Linked DNA regions of Homo sapiens: regions 1 and 3 are each linked to region 2. The links come from fine-mapping of genetic effects on gene expression. A gene starts in region 2. Each other region holds a variant in brackets. All regions are shown on one strand. Distances are between the middles of the regions.

Evidence for each region. PIP is the estimated chance that this variant, and not a neighbour inherited with it, causes the effect.
Region 1: its variant is the best candidate, but not a certain one, in a credible set for the expression of HYCC1 in blood mononuclear cells (TOPMed, PIP 0.60).
Region 3: its variant is the best candidate, but not a certain one, in a credible set for the expression of HYCC1 in Th2 cells (Schmiedel 2018, PIP 0.79).

What each region holds. Positions count from the first base shown.
Region 1 is chr7:23,031,411-23,038,487 of GRCh38, reverse strand. No RefSeq gene overlaps it. Among named protein-coding and RNA genes, the nearest start is that of HYCC1, 21 kb to the right of the region's middle. The variant G/A (reference allele first, on the strand shown) is at 3,791.
Region 2 is chr7:23,011,006-23,018,082 of GRCh38, reverse strand. HYCC1 (hyccin PI4KA lipid kinase complex subunit 1) reads left to right here and starts at 3,953. Exons shown (of 11, transcript NM_032581.4): 1 at 3,953-4,158. RefSeq lists enhancers at 3,623-3,802, 3,963-4,152, 4,570-5,251 and a silencer at 4,343-4,612.
Region 3 is chr7:22,904,116-22,909,115 of GRCh38, reverse strand. It overlaps a transcript of HYCC1 not described here. Among named protein-coding and RNA genes, the nearest start is that of SNORD93, 50 kb to the right of the region's middle. The variant TTG/G (reference allele first, on the strand shown) is at 2,010.

The DNA of each region.
Region 1 (7,077 bases), 20 kb before region 2:
ATTCAGGAGCAGGTTGTTCAGTTTCCATGTAGTTGAGCGGCTTTGAGTGAGATTCTTAATCCTGAGTTCTAGTTTGATTGCACTGTGGTCTGAGAGATAGTTTGTTATAATTTCTGTTCTTTTACATTTGCTGAGGAGAGCTTTACTTCCAACTATGTGGTCAATTTTGGAATAGGTGTGGTGTGGTGCTGAAAAGAATGTATATTCTGTTGATTTGGGGTGGAGAGTTCTGTAGATGTCTATTAGGTCTTCTTGGTACAGAGCTGAGTTCAATTCCTGGGTATCCTTGTTGACTTTCTGTCTCGTTGATCTGTCTAATGTTGACAGTGGGGTGTTAAAGTCTCCCATTATTAATGTGTGGGAGTCTAAGTCTCTTTGTAGGTCACTCAGGACTTGCTTTATGAATCTGGGTGCTCCTGTATTGGGTGCATATATATTTAGGATAGTTAGCTCCTCTTGTTGAATTGATCCCTTTACCATTATGTAATGGCCTTCTTTGTCTCTTTTGATCTTTGTTGGTTTAAAGTCTGTTTTATCAGAGACTAGGATTGCAACCCCTGCCTTTTTTTGTTTTCCATTTGCTTGGTAGATCTTCCTCCATCCTTTTATTTTGAGCCTATGTGTGTCTCTGCATGTGAGATGGGTTTCCTGAATACAGCACACTGATGGGTCTTGAGTCTTTATCCAACTTGCCAGTCTGTGTCTTTTAATTGGAGCATTTAGTCCATTTACATTTAAAGTTAATATTGTTATGTGTGAATTTGATCCTGTCATGATGATGTTAGCTGATGATTTTGCTCGTTAGTTGATGCAGTTTCTTCCTAGTCTCGATGGTCTTTACATTTTGGCATGATTTTGCAGCGGCTGGTACCGGTTGTTCCTTTCCATGTTTAGCGCTTCCTTCAGGAGCTCTTTTAGGGCAGGCCTAGTGGTGACAAAATCTCTCGGCATTTGCTTGTCTGTAAAGTATTTTATTTCTCCTTCACTTATGAAGCTTAGTTTGGCTGGATATGAAACTCTGGGTTGAAAATTCTTTTCTTTAAGAATGTTGAATATTGGCCCCCACTCTCTTCTGGCTTGTAGGGTTTCTGCCGAGAGATCCGCTGTTAGTCTGATGGGCTTCCCTTTGAGGGTAACCCGACCTTTCTCTCTGGCTGCCCTTAACATTTTTTCCTTCATTTCAACTTTGGTGAATCTGACAATTATGTGTCTTGGAGTTGCTCTTCTCGAGGAGTATCTTTGTGGCGTTCTCTGTATTTCCTGAATCTGAACGTTGGCCTGCCTTGCTAGATTGGGGAAGTTCTCCTGGATAATATCCTGTAGAGTGTTTTCCAACTTGGTTCCATTCTCCGCATCACTTTCAGGTACACCAATCAGACGTAGATTTGGTCTCTTCACATAGTCCCATATTTCTTGGAGGCTTTGCTCATTTCTTTTTATTCTTTTTTCTCTAACCTTCCCTTCTTGCTTCATTTCATTCATTTCATCTTCCATTGCTGATACCCTTTCTTCCAGTTGATCACATCGGCTCCTGAGGCTTCTGCATTCTTCACGTAGTTCTCGAGCCTTGGTTTTCAGCTCCATCAGCTCCTTTAAGCACTTCTCTGTATTGGTTATTCTAGTTATACATTCTTCTAAATTTTTTTCAAAGTTTTCAACTTCTTTGCCTTTGGTTTGAATGTCCTCCCGTAGCTCAGAGTAATTTGATCGTCTGAAGCCTTCTTCTCTCAGCTCGTCAAAGTCATTCTCCATCCAGCTTTGTTCCGTTGCTGGTGAGGAACTGCGTTCCTTTGGAGGAGGAGGGGCGCTCTGCGTTTTAGAGTTTCCAGTTTTTCTGTTCTGTTTTTTCCCCATCTTTGTGGTTTTATCTACTTTTGGTCTTTGATGATGGTGATGTACAGATGGGTTTTCGGTGTGGATGTCCTTTCTGTTTGTTAGTTTTCCTTCTAACAGACAGGACCCTCACCTGCAGGTCTGTTGGAATACCCTGCCGTGTGAGGTGTCAGTGTGCCCCTGCTGGGGGGTGCCTCCCAGTTAGGCTGCTCGGGGGTCAGGGGTCAGGGACCCACTTGAGGAGGCAGTCTGCCCATTCTCAGATCTCCAGCTGCGTGCTAGGAGAACCACTGCTCTCTTCAAAGCTGTCAGACAGGGACATTTAAGTCTGCAGAGGTTACTGCTGCCTTTTTGTCTGTCTGTGCCCTGCCCCCAGAGGTGGAGCCTACAGAGGCAGGCAGGCCTCCTTGAGCTGTGGTGGGCTCCACCCAGTTCGAGCTTCCCGGCTGCTTTGTTTACCTAAGCAAGCCTGGGCAATGGCGGGCGCCCCTCCCCCAGCCTCGCTGCCGCCTTGCAGTTTGATCTCAGACTGCTGTGCTAGCAATCAGCGAGATTCCGGGGGCGTAGGACCCTCCGAGCCAGGTGTGGGATATAGTCTCGTGGTGCGCCGTTTTTTAAGCCAGTCTGAAAAGCGCAATATTCGGGTGGGAGTGACCCGATTTTCCAGGTGCGTCCGTCACCCCTTTCTTTGACTCGGAAAGGGAACTCCCTGACCCCTTGCGCTTCCCAGGTGAGGCAATGCCTCGCCCTGCTTTGGCTCACGCCCGGTGCGCGCACCCACTGGCCTGCGCCCACTGTCTGGCACTCCCTAGTGAGATGAACCCGGTACCTCAGATGGAAATGCAGAAATCACCCGTCTTCTGCGTCGCTCACGCTGGGAGCTGTAGACCGGAGCTGTTCCTATTCAGCCATCTTGGCTCTATTTCCGTGCCACATTTTCTTAAACCAGTCTATCATTGATGGACATTTGGGGTGGTTCCAAGTCTTTGCTATTGTGAATAGTGCTGCAATAAACATACATGTGTATGTGTCTTTATAGCAGCATGATTTATAATCCTTTGGCTATATACCCAGTAATGGGATGGCTGGGTCAAACGGTATTTCTAGTTCTAGATCCTTGAGGAATCGCCACGCTGTCTTCCACAATGGTTGAACTAGTTTACAGCCCCACCAACAGTGTAAAAGTGTTCCTATTTCTCCACATCTTGTCCAGCACCTGTTGTTTCCTGACTTTTTAATGATCACCATTCTCACTGGTGTGGGATGGTATCTCATTGTGGTTTTGATTTGCATTTCTCTGATGGCCAGTGATGATGAGCATTTTTTCATGTGTCTGTTGGCTGCATAAATGTCTTCTTTTGAGAAGTGTCTGTTCATATCCTTGGCCCACTTTTTGATGAAGTTGTTTGTTTTTTTCTTGTAAATTTGTTTGAGTTCTTTGTAGATTCTGGATATTAGCCCTTTGTCAGATGAGTAGGTTGCGAAAATTTTCTCCCATGTTGTAGGTTGCCTGTTCACTCTGATGGTAGTTTCTTTTGCTGTGCAGAAGCTCTTTAGTTTAATTAGATCCCATTTGTCAATTTTGGCTTTTGCTGCCATTGCTTTTGGTGTTTTAGACATGAAGTCCTTGCCCATGGCTATGTCCTGAATGGTAATAGCTAGGTTTTCTTCTAGAGTTTTTATGGTTTCAGGTCTAACATTTAAGTCTTTAATCCATCTTGAATTAATTTTTGTATAAGGTATAAGGAAGGGATCCAATTTTAGGTTTCTACCTATGGCTAGCCAGTTTTCCCAGCACCATTTATTAAATAGGGAATCCTTTCCCCATTTCTTGTTGTTGTCAGGTTTGTCAAAGATCAGATGGTTGTAGATGTGTGGTATTATTTCTGAGGGCTCTGTTCTGTTCCATTGGTCTATATCTCTGTTTTGGTACCAGTACCATGCTATTTTGGTTACT[G/A]TAGCCTTGTAGTATAGTTTGAAGTCAGGTAGCATGATGCCTCCAGCTTTGTTCTTTTGGCTTAGGATTGTCTTGGCAATGCAGGCTCTTTTTTGGTTCTATATGAACTTTAAAGTAGTTTTTTCCAATGCTGTTAAGAAAGTCATTGGTAGTTTTATGGGGATGGCATTGAATCTTTAAATTACCTTGGACAGTATGGCCATTTTCACAATATTGATTCTTCCTATCCATGAGCATGGAATGTTCTTCTATTTGTTTGTATCCTCTTTTATTTCGTTGAACAGTGGTTTGTAGTTCTCCTTGAAGAGATCCTTCACGTCCCTTGTAAGTTGGATTCCTAGGTATTTTATTCTCTTTGAAGCAGTTATGAATGGGAGTTCACTAATGATTTGGCTCTCTGTTTGTCTATTATTGGTGTATAAGAATGCTTGTGATTTTTGCACATTGATTTTTTTGTATCCTGAGACTTTGCTGAAGTTGCTTGTCAGCTTAAGGAGATTTTGGGCTGAGACTATGGGGTTTTCTAAATATACAATCATGGTGTTGACCCAAAATTTTAAATAGAGCTTCTTTTCCTTAACTAATTGCAAATCAGAAAATCTTAAAATCTCCTTAGGACCTGTAAGCCCCCACATCAAGATGTTCTATCCTTTTTACGTCAAACCAATATATAACCTTCATATATTAATTTATAATTGTTGCCTATAACTTCTGGTTTCCTGAAATTTACCCCTGCCTTTAAAAACTCTTAACCTGTGGCTAGGCGTGGTGGCTCATGCCTATAATCCCAGCACTTTGGGAGGCCAAGGCGGGCGGATCACGAGGTCAGGGGATCGAGATCATCCTGGCTAACACAGTGAAACCCTGTCTCTACTAAAAATACAAAAATTAGCTGGTGTGGTGGTGCACGTCTGTATTCCCAGCTACTCAGGAGGCTGACGCAGGAGAATCGCTTGAACCGGGGAGGTGGGGGTTGCAGTGAGCCGAAATCATGCCACTGCATTCCAGCCTGGGTGACAGAGTGAGACTCCATCTCAAAAACAAACAAGCAAACAAACAAAAACCCTTACTTGCAAGCCACTGGGGAGACAGGGTCTTAAGTGTGAGTTGCCTGATTCTCCTTGCTTGGTGCCCCGCAAATAAACATCCTTTGTCTGGCTACAAACCTTGGTATAGATTTTTGGCCTTACTGTGCCAGGCTAGTGGACCCCAGTTCGTTTCAATTACAACTGCTTCAAAAACAAATTAAAGACTTAATGAGCCCAGAATTTGAATGTAGATCTATGAGATTAAAATGTCACATGATTAAAAATATAAGAGCTGCATCTATTTATTTTCTACACAACACCAAGTCATGCCTGGATGTCAAAATCCATTTAATGGTGCTCAAGTTTTTGAAGCAGGTAATGCTTGTCTCTAATGCCCTCCCTCTCCCTTTAGTTCTTTCCCAGATCCACTGTGGCTGGGGTCCATGTTTCCCTGTCTTCCTAGAGTTCCCTTCTAGAACACTTATTTAGGACTGGTCCGACTCCAAATTCACACCTTCTCCAAAATTGGTCATTCTCTACCTCACCCTCCAACCAAAACCCCTTTCTCTCAGGATAAGCTAACGTAGTGGAAAGCTTATGTTCTCTGGAGCCCAAAAAGTATGGGGTGGAATCTCTTCTCCACCGCTGTGTGACCTTGATCAAGTTGGTTAACTTCTCTAAGCATCGGTTTACTGACTTGTAAAATAATAAAATTACCCATCCAGGTGCGGTGGCTCACGCCTGTAATCCCAGCATTTTGGGAGGCCGAGGAGGGAGAATCACGAGGTCAAGAGATCGAGACCATCCTGGCTAACCAACATGGTGAAATCCCTTCTCTACTAAAAATACAAAAATTAGCTGGGCATAGTGGCGCACAACTGTAGTCCCAGCTACTTGGGAGGCTGAGGCAGGAGAATTGCTTGAACCCAGAAGGCAGAGGTTGCAGTGAGCCGAGATCGCTCCACTGCACCCCAGCCCGGGTGACAGAGAGAGACTCCGTCTCAAAAAAAAAAAAAAAAAAATTACCCATGGGGTTGTTAAAAGGCATAGAAGCATTTATGCATCCTGCAGCTTTTAGCCACCTGCATCCAAGCTCTCTTTTGTATGATGATCACAAAGATGAATCAAAGTTCCAGACCCTGAATGGGGACCCAGTACATAAAAAAACCAGTGGTTGAGCCTCAGGGGTGGCCAAAGAGACAACCAGCTATCAGCCAGCCTTTTCCTCTTTTGTTTTGTTTTCAACAAAAAACAAGATTCATATGCCAATTGCCCACAACCACTTCCCAAAATCACCAAAGCAAAGTTGTCAAAACTATGCTCCTTCACTCCACACATTCCTTTCAGGCCATAGGTTGCCCTTTCATAACTGGGTATCCCTTTTCAGATCCCTTGAGATATTTGTTGAGACCTGATTTGGAGACAGGGGTACAGCAGATAAGAGAGTGGGAGCACACTGTAAAGTTTGCTTCATTTTTCAACCATTAGAAAAGGCTCTGCTTAGGCCGGGCGCGGTGGCTTACGCCTGTAATTCCAGCACTTTGGGAGGCCGAGGCGGGTGGATTGCCTGAGGTCGGGAGGGAGTTCTAGACCAGCCTGACCAACATGGAGAAACCTCGTCTCTACTAAAAAAAATACAAGGCTGGGCGCGGTGGCTCATGCCTGTAATCCCAGTACTTGGGAGGCCGAGGCGGGCGGATCACGAGGTCAGGAGATCGAGACCATCCTGGCTAACACGGTGAAACCCCATCTCTACTAAAAATACAAAAAAAAAAAAAAAAAAAAAATTAGCCGTGTGTGGTGGTGGGCGCCTGTAGTCCCAGCTGCTTGGGAGGCTGATGCAGGAGAATGGTGTGAACCCGGGAGGCAGAGCTTGCAGTGAGCCGAGATTGCGCCACTGCACTCCAGCCTGGGCGACAGAGTGAGACTCTGTCTCAAAAAACAAACAAAAAAATTAGCCCGTTGTGCTGGCGCATGCCTATAATCCCAGCTACTTGGGAGGCTGAGGCAGGAGAATCGCTTGAACCCGGGAGGCGGAGGTTGCAGTGAGCGAGATCACGCCATTGTACTCCAGCCTGGTCAACAAGAAGGAAACTCCATCTTAAAAAAAAAAAAAAAAAGTAGAAAAGGCTCTGCTTAGAATTAGCCACTCTGGGAGTTGGAGGAGAGCCTTCTTCTAAATTTCCACAGTTATTGGTGTTTCATAGCATGGTCATGGGCGAGCGGAAGTAGATCCAGGACTTCCTGGCTGGAGTTGAG
Region 2 (7,077 bases):
CTAAGATGGTGCCACTGCACTCCAGCCTGGGTGACAGAATCAGACTCTGTCTCAAAAACAAAACGAAACAAAGAAAGGAAAAGAAAAAGAAAAAAAGAGAAAGATATTTGAACTAAATTTTTCTTAAAATTCCTGAAATTTAATGTCATAGGGAAAATGTTTATGTTTATAATGTTCAACTGGCACTTTTATACAGTTATTTGCAAGAAGATAAATGCATTTTAATAGTTACTTTAGAATTATGCGTGTGGATATCAGAGACTAGCAAAGATGAGCAGGAAAGATCTGGAATATGTTGACTTTTATAAAGTAGGTTAAAAGCATTTTCCTTTTGAAACAGAATGTTCTCTTAGGCATTTTTTCTGGTGCTTTGCGATTAAAATATAAACGGCTATGTGTAAAACTTAACTGCAGACTGTTATTGTTGGAAATTATTTTTATATGCACAAATTGTGATGGAAAGGAGAGTAGACTGGAAACATAAATTTGTGCTTTCGTTTTACTCTGACTTAGAGGGAAGACAACTTAAATTGCCTTCTATACTACCTTACCACTGCAAAATGGGAAGTGAAGTCAGGCAGTAAACTGCTTCCTGTCTTCTTGCAGGAAGGAAACAAATTATATATAAATATACATAGCCAAACTTCAGTTTCTCTCCACTCAATCTATCCTATGCACGGCACTGATTTGGCACTAGTAACATGTTATATTATTTCCCTTTTGTCAACCTTGGGTGTATATTAGAACCACTTGGGAAGCTTTTTTAAAAACCCAATGACTAGCCTCACACACCAATTTATTTATTTATTTACTGTGGGGTGCGGTTTGAGTACTGATAATTTTGAAAGGCATCCTAAGTGATTCTAATGAGCAGACAGGAAGCCACAAGGCAAAAGGAGAAAATCTGAACAACTGAGCTTGCCTTCAAGGTGTTCTATTATCTATCTGCAACCTAGCTTGCCAGGCTTGGCTGACTCAAGTTGCCTCCCATGCCCTCTGAACATTGCTTGTGCTTCCCCTCTTGTGTTATTTCTCCAGGCATTCTGGGAGTTACTTTCTCACCATTTTATCTGGTTCAAATTCCTCCCCAGTTTTCTAGACCCAGCCCATTTTGCCTTTTTCATGAAGCCTTCCCTGACTGCCCTTGACTGCAGTGCTTGCATCCTCCTCTGAAAACACAGCGGCTAATGCCTAGAAAATCATTTGAACAATGAATCGATTATGTACTGCCTTATGTAATCTCTCCACTGCTGCATTAAATAATTACTTTAATCTTTGCTTAACCTTTCATCTGTTTGTTATGCAGCTAACTATACTATAAGCAAGCTTCTAGCATTCATCTGTATCCTTGACAAGCCACGTGCCTTGTACAGTACAGGAAGTCAATAATATTTACCTGTCCCTTCCATCCTGACTTCCACAGGTTTGGTTCGAGATTCTCTCCTGGAATCTTGTCCTGGTCTTGGCTGGGCTTCCTGCCACCAGAAACTTTGGCTCTTCAAATCAGGTCAACACATTACTGGCACACATGGCCAATGGCCAGTAAAACTGATGGTGTGTGTGTGTGTGTGTGTGTGTGTGTGCATGCGCGTAGGTGTGCACTCTTTTGCCCACTCTTGTTTCTCTCTATCTTATGATCTGGCTGACTCGGTTTCTTTCCTTCCTTGGTCCCTCACTCTCCTACTCAATGGGACTTGACGGCAGAATTCAACGTCTCAGGTTTTGACTGCTTGTGTTCTCTAAGATGAATAACATGCTGCCTGGATCTTCCTCTCCCTATTTCTTTGAGTAAACACTTGTCCTGAACAGGCTCTGGCCAAGGGGACCTAAATTAAGTCAGTCTGATCTGTCAAGAATTTCCTCTCTACCCTGTTTTTTTTTCTTTGGATTCTCACCATTTAAAAGAAACCTGATTGCATTGTCCACATGATTAAAAGCTGTTGTCTGTCCCTCATTGCCTTAAGAAGAAAATCTAAACCTGAGCTATCCAATATGGGAGTTGTTAAAGTTAAAATTAAAAATTAATGCCAGACATGGTGGTTCACACCTGTAATCCCAGCACTTTGGGAGGCTGAGGTGGGTGGAGCACCTGAGGTCAGGAGTTCGAGACCAGCCTGGCCAACATGGTGAACCCCTGTCTCTACAAAAAATACAAAAATTAGCTGGGTGTGGTGGTGAGTTCATGTAACCCCAGCTACTCAGGAGGCTGAGGCAGGAGAATTGCTTGAACCTGGGAAGTGGAAGTGCAGTGAGGTAAGATCCCACCACTGTACTCCAGCCTGGGTGACAGAGGGAGACTCTGCCAAAAAAAAAAAAAATTAAAAATTGAGTTTCAGCCGTGTATGGTAGTTCATGTCTGTAATCCCAGCACTTTGGGAGGCTGAGGTGGGAGGATCACTTAAGCACTCTACCCCAGTTTGGGTGACAGAGTGAGACCTTGTCTCAAAAATAAATAAATAAATAAATAAATACATTGAGCTCTTCAGTCACACCACATTTCAAGTATTTGATAGCCACATGTGGCTAATGGCTACTATTTTGGACAACACAAATATAGAACATTTTCACCAGTGCAGAAAGCTCTGCTGGACAGTGCTTGTCTGAATATCTTAGTGTAGCTTGTGAGGTCTTTTACAATCTCACCTCAACCTTTTGCTCCAGCCCAATTTTTGGCCGTTCCTCATCATTTAACCCCATCTACCTTCTCAACATTCCACAATGGCTCTGTGCCCTTTCACAGCTCCATGCCTTTGAACATGGTGTTCTCCCTTTCTGAAATACCCTTTGACTTTCTTCTCTGGCAAACTCCCATTTACCTTTTAAGATCCAACTCAAACATTACCTTCCTTGTGGAGTTCGCTGACTTTCCTAAACAGTCATTTCTTGTCCTCTGTTTCCATTGCTCATTGAACCAATCTCTATTGTCCTTATCACTGTAGTTTGTTATTATTTACTCATTAATCTGATCCTCCCTTTGGAGGGGGATCCTATCTGTTTTAGCAATCTGCCCTAATAATTACCTGAAATTGTTTGCTTGATACCCTTTTGATATCAAGTAATATATCTTCTTATTTATGTGCTTGTTATTTATGAGTTCAGCATGTTTGAAAAGTTCACTTAGTGTTTCTGGAGAAATCCTGCCCATTTCTAGTGTAAAGCTAGAATGAACTTCCTGTCTTCTAGGGTGGAGGTCAGTTTTTCTTCTAATTAATCCTGACCAGTCTTGAGAAGGATGTGGTAGGAGAGGTTTACAAGGTCAAAAACAGCAGTACTGTCTGCAGGCGCAGGTTCAGGTGTTCTCGGGTTCCAGTTATTATACAAAACATTTAGTATATGTTCAGAGAAAAAGTAGGGAGGAATGATGGAAAAAATAAAAACAACCCCCATGGAAAGAAAACTGAGGCATCGTATTTGACTTTTTCCAGGCTAAGCCCAAAAGCAATGATGTAGTGAGGGGGAAGTTTGTATTTCCATTTTGCAAAAACGTAATTTTTTTTTCCTCCCGGGATTTGATAAGATTTTGATAAATTCTTGTGAATTTAATTACAGGGAAGTAAATCCTACTGACTAGTAAATTATCAATTTGTTTCTCTTTTCTCACAAAAGAGAAACAAATTGATACCCTTCACATCATCCGGTAAGGTTTATTTTTTTCTGAGAAGGCCATAAGCCCTAACGGCTCAGAATCTAAGAGACCTTCGCTGATTGTCATCGCCTAGCGGCCACCGCAAACCTTACAGTCAATCAACTTCCCTCGGACGCCCGGATCACGCCCATTGCTCAGACCACGCCCACTCAAGGCGCCTCATGGCTCCGCCCCAGGCCCAGCAGAAGAAGATTCTCATTGGTGGAGAAGTTGTTCTGATCCCGCCCCGGAGGACGGCGATAGGCTGAACTGGCGTGGGGCGGTGGTGGTTGGCTGCTTGAGGACGGGTCCCTGGTCGTGCCTGTCAGAGAGGCTGGCGGCAGTGGTGGCTCTCCCGGCTGGGTTGTCAGTCAGTGAGAGGAGGGGGAAGATGGCTCACCGGGACCCGTTCTGCTAGGAAGAAGGGGAGCAGGTGGTGCTGCTACTCGGGAGGAAGCAGAGCAGCCTCCGTCGCTGTCGCTGAGAGCCTCACGAGTCGAGGTCCTGCAGGTGGAGCTCCGGCAGCCGCCCTGGTGAGTCCAGCCGAGAGACCCACGCCGGGCCCCCAGGGCGTCCGGCAACGGATAACTTTTTTTTGTCAGGGAGGAGCCGGGGCGAGGCGGCGGCGAGGACAGGACCGGGACTTTGTCCCTGGGGCCGCGGCTCCACTGGGGGTAACGGCTCCCGCGCGAGGCGCCATGGGTGGGTGCGAGGCGGCGCGGGGCGCTGGGGGCGGCTGGCGGGCGGGTGGGCTGCGGCCGGCGCTGCTCGCCCCGAAGTTGGGCGCAGCCTGCCCGCTGCCTGGAGGGCGGCAGCTTTGTGCGCGCGACTCGGGTCTTTCCTTCCCGGCGAGGAGCAGTCCAGCCTCCTGCTGTGACCCGGGTGCCGCCGCCTCGGCCCCACCGGCCGCCCCTCTGCCGGGTGGGCCTGGGGCGGGAGCCCCCCGTCCCCTCCCTGCCGCGGCGGATGCTCTGGCCTCTGCCTCCTCTCCCACTCGCGCCCTCTACTTCGGCGAGGCCGCCACTGTCCGTCCGGTCTGGTGGCCACAATGGTCACTGTCGACCCCCCGCCCTCGCCCCCTGGAGAGCAGCGTTGGCCCGAGTCGGTCTTTGGTCCCCTGCAGGGCGGAGAGGTTCAGACAGCAGCCACGCTTCCTTCCTTGGTTATTTCGCTGAAGATCTCTTCTTGAGCCCTTGCCCCTTCTTTCTATGAGTTATTCCTCTCCTGAGGCTCATTTTAACATACTCGGGAATCCTCGGGGGTTTGGCTGAAAATGGTTGCATTAAAACACCCCCAAGTTTGTACGCTTCCCCGAAATTTGCTGTCTGCCCGTCAGCTTGCACATGTGTGCTTTGTGAGTTTAGACATTCCTGAAAGATTTTAATTTTGCCTAAGTGGTTTAGTACTGCACAGAATCTGCTCTCTGAGAAATACACTATCACAAGCCTGGCAGCCGCGGCGCTCTTCAGGTAGGGGGAATTTGTTCCACCGGCAGCTACTTCTTATCTCAGAGACTGCCCTACAGGCAGTAGGGCCAAGCTGACCTTTTGCAAATTATTTATCCTTGGATCACACAGTAGTTTTTGGAGCAGGTGGGCCACCTCTTTGGTTCATGTAACACTTTACAGTTTGAGGTTTTCAGCTTTCAAATCTTATTGCCATAAAGTCAGAAAGACTGGGAGGCTTGTTTTCCATGAAAACATTCTACTGCTAACATCCACAGGCACCCCACCTCCCCCGACATTTCCAAGTATTTTTTTTTCTTTAGGTGAATACATTTTAAGGTTTACAGGATGAATAGTAGTCTAAACCACCATATTTTTGAAGTGCAGGCAAAGACAAGGAAGGAAAAACATTTAAGATCTGCTTGGCCAATAGTGGCTTCAAAGTCAGCTATTCAAATAATCAGTTCAATCAAACCAAGTGGCAAGGGGGAAAAGCATCACATATTTAGGAAACAAATTCTGGATTTGGCTCGTTTATCCTTATTCGATTTATTGAAATTACCATGAGGGATTAGAAGGATTAGAAACCTTCTTAGTCATCGGCATTAGCAGTACCTGGATACAGACACCCGATAAGGCATTAGCTGGGTCAGCGTTTATCCTTGCTCTGCTTCCTTTCATTGTTGTATTTCTGTTTTATGAAATTTGCTCTGGGTTGTATTTTTTAGACTGGTGTCTTTGACGGTGAGTTTAAATATATGTACTGTTTTATTCAGCATCCTGTTGCCTAATATTTATTTTATAATGGATCTTAAGAAATTTTAAGAAATCTTAGTATTCAAGACCTATTTTGGGGTATCGTTTATATTTTATAAATGATTGAAATTATATCAAACATAAATTTATTTTTTCACTCTTCCAGGCTGAGTAGGTACTAGGGATACAGAAATGAATGTCATAGCTCTTGTCTTCAAGGAATTTACTATCTAACATACAAGATGTTAGTAACATTACAGTAAATTAACAATTATAATACTATGTAGTCAGTGGGAATAGAGATATGCCTAGTGTAGTAGGAGAGTTTAGAGTAGGAGATAGTTAACTTGCCTTGAGTGTAGGTGGAGTTGGGAGCACACAGCCAAGTTGTGAAGGATGATATGATTTTGCCAAGTGCAGGAGGTAAGTAACTTCCCAAGAGGAGGATATAGTAATTGAGAAGGCAAGGAGGCCTGAGAAACTGTGGCAATTTAGATAAGTCATTGACAATGACGAGTCAGTGTCAATTGACATTGGCAGTTGACAAAGTCAATAACATTGACATTGATATGGCTTGAATGCAGGGGTTAGTAGGAAATGGTGCCAGATGAAGATAGTGAGGGTGGTAGAGGGCCAGATCAGGGAATGGTATCCTTAGCTAAAGGGATTGGATTGAACGTGATAGATGAGAAGCCATTTATTGGATTTGTATTTTAGACCTTTACTGTGGCAGAGTGAGGGAAAAACTAACAAGTCCTAATCACCTATGAGAAGAAAGGAGGACTCAGGACTGTGAAGGTTTGACTTGGGGTTCTGTTGATGGAAATGAGGAACACAAAAATGGAAGGAAGATGATAAATTCTGTTTTGGCTATTTTGAATTTGAGGAAGCAGTGGAACTTCAGGCGAAGATATAGATAGATGTTTGTATCTGTGGATGTGAAAATCAGGATTAGAGAGATGATTGGGGGTTGAATTGAAGCTATATTGATTTAGTTGTGATGAAATGACTCAGGGAAAGCCTTTAGCCTGGTGAAAGTGGCAGCCAGAGAACAGACTCTCATAAATAGCAGAAGTAGGAAGAAGAATTGTCTGAAAGTTAGAGGAATAGTAGCTAGCAAGGTAGGAGGACCATCAGGAAAGATGCCAAGGGCGGGGAGATTTTCCAGTGGAGGAGGAACAGGTTAACAATTTTGAATGCTGTAAGGAGGTGTCAAGTTAGGAGAGGGCCCCAGTGACCACTGAATTTGTC
Region 3 (5,000 bases), 110 kb after region 2:
GACACAGATTCAACCCATATCAGGCAGAGCCCAGGAGAAGTCCATGTGTGGTTTCTAGTTGTCCTCTCCCAGCATGGTCATGGACCATGTTAACTTCTCCCAGCAATAATGGGAGACAGTCCACCTAGAGTATTATCAACCAGGAAAGCTCATCTGAGCCTTAATGCACAGAGTTTTTATTGGGGCTCAGTCACATCAATACAGTTGACTGCCTGCATAACTGGCTTTTAGGCTGTAGCCCCTCTGGAGGTCAAGCTGATACTGCATAGTACCAAACCCCCACAATAAATCACACTCTTAGACTACCCAGTGTGGCCCAAGGCCCCCAGGTAAACAAAGTCATTCTTATCAGTCAAGACATTTCAAGGGCTTACAGATGACCTTTTAGGAGCTGAGAGTAAAGGCCAGACCTCTCTTTGGGTACACTTAATTCTTTACTACACAAGGTATAAGGAGTCCAGTCTGACTGGAGTGCAGATTTTATTAGAGGCTGGAAAGGTGTTCAGGGTCAGATGGAGAATCACTGATGGGGTGACAAATGGAGGGGGAGTAAATGCAAGTAACAGAAGATGTAGATCAAAGATGCATGGAATTAACAGCTCTATTTGGAGAATGTGGTTTTCAACATTACCTCTCCACATAATGCCTGGAAGACCAGAATAGAGGCATAATAAAACCAAAATCACAAGCAAAAGAAATGCCAAATCGTGTCTGTGTGCTGGAACATTAGAGCATGTGTTTCACAACAGTGCCATACAAGAAAATGTAACCAAAGCAAGCTACTTAAATTGAGTATATAGTGGAAGTCAGACTAAAAAGGAATCTATGGGTACCAGGGCTCTTGTTAGCTCCTAAAATAGAAGAGCACCAACGTCTTCCAAAAGAAATTTGTCAAATGACCTTTTTACCACTCCATTGTATGGAACTATGCCTTGTGCATTTCCCTATTTTTCATCACTTAAGCTCTTCTTATGTTTTAGTCTACTAAAACAAAATTATAAACTCAGAAAATTTGGAGGCAAGAGAGGTCTTAATCCTCCTTTAAGTCCACTTTTTGCTTGAGGGCAGCCCTCAGACTGCCTGCATGAGAACCTTCTGGGAAGATTTCTCATTCCTAATAATAGATTATGGGTCAGCAAATGGGAGAGTGGGGGTGGTAGTGGGAAAGAAGCATAAAAATCTGCATATTTATTTATTTATTTTTGAGACAGGCTCTTGTTCTGTTGCTCAGGCTGGAGAGCAGTGGTGTGATCTCAGCTCACTGCAACTTCCGCCTCCCGGGTTCAAGCGATTCTCCTGCCTCAGCCTCCTGGGCAGCTGGGACTATGAGCATGCGCCACCACGCCCAGCTAACTTTTGTATTTTTTTAGTAGAGACGGGGTTTCACCATGTTGGCCAGGCTGGTCTCAAACTCCTGACATCAAGTGATCCACCCGCCTCGGCCTCCCAAAGTGCTGGGATTACAGGGGTGGGCCCCCGCACCCAGCTGAAATCTGCATTTTAATAAGCATGTCAGTCTGCATCTACCTATGAATCCTTCAAAATATTTTGCACACTTCCTTATGATTATTTGTTTAGATAAGCACCAGGAAAATATTTGGCTCATTGAAGTCTCTAATACCTAAAAGGTTCTCAATAAATGGTGTTTGAATAGTTGTTCACTCTCCTAACAGATCTCCTAGATTCCAGGGACCAGAAGGGGCTGAGGGATTCCGTGATGAGGTTGCCTGGACAGGCTAAGGTAACGTGCCAGCCAGCCTCAGCCAGTTTTTGGCTAGACCCCACCAGGTGCCAATACTTTTTTGCTTCATTGTTACCTTTGTTTCTTAATAAAGGTTTATTTTTAAAAATCCAGGCATCTTAGTTGAACTAAGTAAGGAGAAAGGGAAAGTTTTCACACCACTCCTAGATACCGTTATTCTTTTGTGAAGGCCCGAACCAGCCTGGGCCAGGTGATTGACTTGTACACTAGAAGAACCATTGCTTTTTTTTTTTTTTTTTTTTTTTTT[TTG/G]AGATAGAGTCTCACTCTGTCACCCAGGCTGGAGTGCAGTGGCACGATCTCGGCTTACTGCAACCTCTGCCTCCCAAGCTCAAGTGATTCTCCTTCCTCAGCCTCCCGAGTAGCTGGGATTACAAGTGCCCGCCCCCATGCCCAGCTAATTTTTTGTATTCCCACCTTCCAACCCCAACTTCTGCAAATGAGTGCTTCCAATCTTGGGCTTTTAATTCTTTTTCAATTTTTAATAGATGTGTAATTGTGCCCTAGATTGTACATGTATTAAAGAAACCCAGCCAGGTGTGTATTTTTCATTTTGGTAATTTGATGTCTTTAAGTCTGCATGCGTAAGTGGTTTGTCCACCTTGGCTGTAAGTCAGGCAGAATCAGGTACTAACCTTATATATTTAAAATTGTCTTTTATTAGTACTATATTACATATTTATCTTTCTTTTGTTACTTTTAATATTTTATACTAGTATATTTTATGTATATCTGAAAATGGCCTCCATTTTGTCATGTATCATTCTTTTTTTTTTTTTGAGACCGAGTCTCACTCTGTCACCCAGGCTGGATTGCAGTGGCGCGATCTTGGCTCACTGCAACCTCAGCCTCCTAGGTTCAAGTGATTCTCGTGCCTCAGCCTCCCAAGTAGCTGGGATTACACACACACGCTACCATGCTCGGCTGATTTTTGTATTTTTAGTAGACGTGGGGTTTCACCATGTTGGCCAGGCTGGTCTCGAACTCCTGAGCTCAGGTGATCCGCCTGCCTTGGTCTCCCAAAGTGCTGAGATTACAGGTTTGAGTCATGTATCATTCTTTCATAGCTGAGATAAATACACGAGTCCATTTTTTTCTAGCTTTTAGAATAGTTTTTAATGTTTAATGCCACCTCTTTAGAATAACTTTCAAATTTAATACATCAGTCAGTGGAGATGGAAATATTAATTGATCTGAGTTAGCAAGTATCAATGCTGTTCTGGAAAAAAAATTGCCGCATTCAGATGACTATATTATTATAACTACTAATCATCATCATCATTATCATTATCACCATCATGATCATCAGTAATGGCACTGTATGATAGTCTTACTAATCTTTCCAGATGAATTACACTATAAACTTGTCAAGAGGGTGGGCTGGAGACTGTAACTGGTACTTAATGTAATCTAACTTAATGAACATATTAATATTTTACTTCATCTTCTCACACAACAATAAGGCACATGTCTTCATAAATTTATTTTTCCTCTATTAGAGTTTTGTATCCTCCTGTAAATAGATTGCAAAATTATAAATTGTGTTAAAGAAATCCTCCGTAACTTAATATATTTCATTTTTATCAAACAACTTATGTAGACATAAAACATTTTATATTCTATGTGAAAAACCAGAATGCATGATGCCATGTATAAATATAACTGCATTTCAGGAAAAATTGAAAAGAATTATATAAAAATAAAAACTTACAGGATGATAATAGCACTTTTTTCCTTCTTAGCAAATTTTCTTTAATTATATTATTAAATCCTTATGAGAAGAAATTAAGTAAAGATGGTGACATGGTTTGTATATTTGTCCCCTTCAAATCGGTGGCTCATGCCTGTAATCTCAACACTTTGGGAGGCTGAGGCGGGTAGATCACTTGAGGTCAAGAGTTCAAGACTAGCCCGGCCAACAAGGAGAAACACTGTCTCTACTAAAAAAAAAAAAAAAAAAAAAAAAAAAATACAAAATTAGCCGGGTATCCTGGTGCGTGCCTCTAAATCCCAGCTACTCACTACTTGGGAGGCTGAGACAGGAGAATCGCTTGAACCTGGGAGGTGGAGGTTGCAGTGAGCCAAGATCACCACTGCACTCCAGCCTGGGCAACACAGCAACACTCTGTTTCAACAAAAAGAAAAAAAGAAAAAAGAAATGTAATCCCCAGTGTTGGAGGTGGGCCTGGTGGGTGGTGTTTGGATCACGGGGGTGGATCTGTCATGAATGGCTTAGTGCCAACCCTTTGGTGGTAAGTGAGTTCACAAAAGATCTGGTTTTTTAAAACTGTGTGGCCCCTCCCTCCTTCTCTCTCTTGTTCCCTTTCTTGCTGTGTGATACTCTACTCCCTTTCTCCTTCTACCACGATTGTAACCTCCCTGAGGCCCTCACCAGGAGTCTTGTGGATGCCAGCACCATGCTTCCTGTATAGCCTGCAGAACCATGAGCCAATTAAACCTCTTTTCTTTCTTTTTTTTTTTTTTTTGAGACAAAGTCTCCCTCTGTCACCTCAGCCTCCTGAGTAGCTGGGACTACAGGTGCATACCACCACACCTGTCTAATTTTTGGATTTTTAGTAGAGACAGGGTTTCACCATGTTGGCCAGGCTGGTCTCAAACTCCTGGCCTCAAGTGATCTGCCCACCTCGACCTCCCAAAGTGCTGTCATGAGCCACCATGCCTGGCCCTAAACCTCTTTTCTTTATAACTTACCCAGACTCAGTTATTTCTTTATAGTAATGCAAGAATGGTCTAACACAGATGGTGACTTGTATAAAATATTTTCCTTTAAAATGTGACTTATACCTTTATTCTGTTGAAAGCATGATGAATTATGTTTTACTTCACTTTGCTTTCCAGGAATAAGTGCTATGGGTTACCAAAGACATATATATATTATTATTATTATTACTTTTTTTTTTTTTTTGAGACAGAGTCTCGCTCTGTTGCCCAGGCTGGAGTGCAGTGGCACGATCTCAGCTCACTACAAGCTCCGCCTCCTGGATTCATGCCATTCTCCTGCCTCAGCCTCCCAAGTAGCTGAGACTACAGGCACCTGCCACCACGCCCGGCTAAGTTTTTGTACTTTTAGTAGAGATGGGGTTTCACTGTGTTAGCCAAGATGGTCTCGATCTCCTGACCTCGTGATCCGCCCGCCTTGGCCTTCCAAAGTGCTGGGATTACAGGCATGAGCCACCATGCCCGGCCCTAAAAACATATTTTTTTAAGGTTTCAATTACTA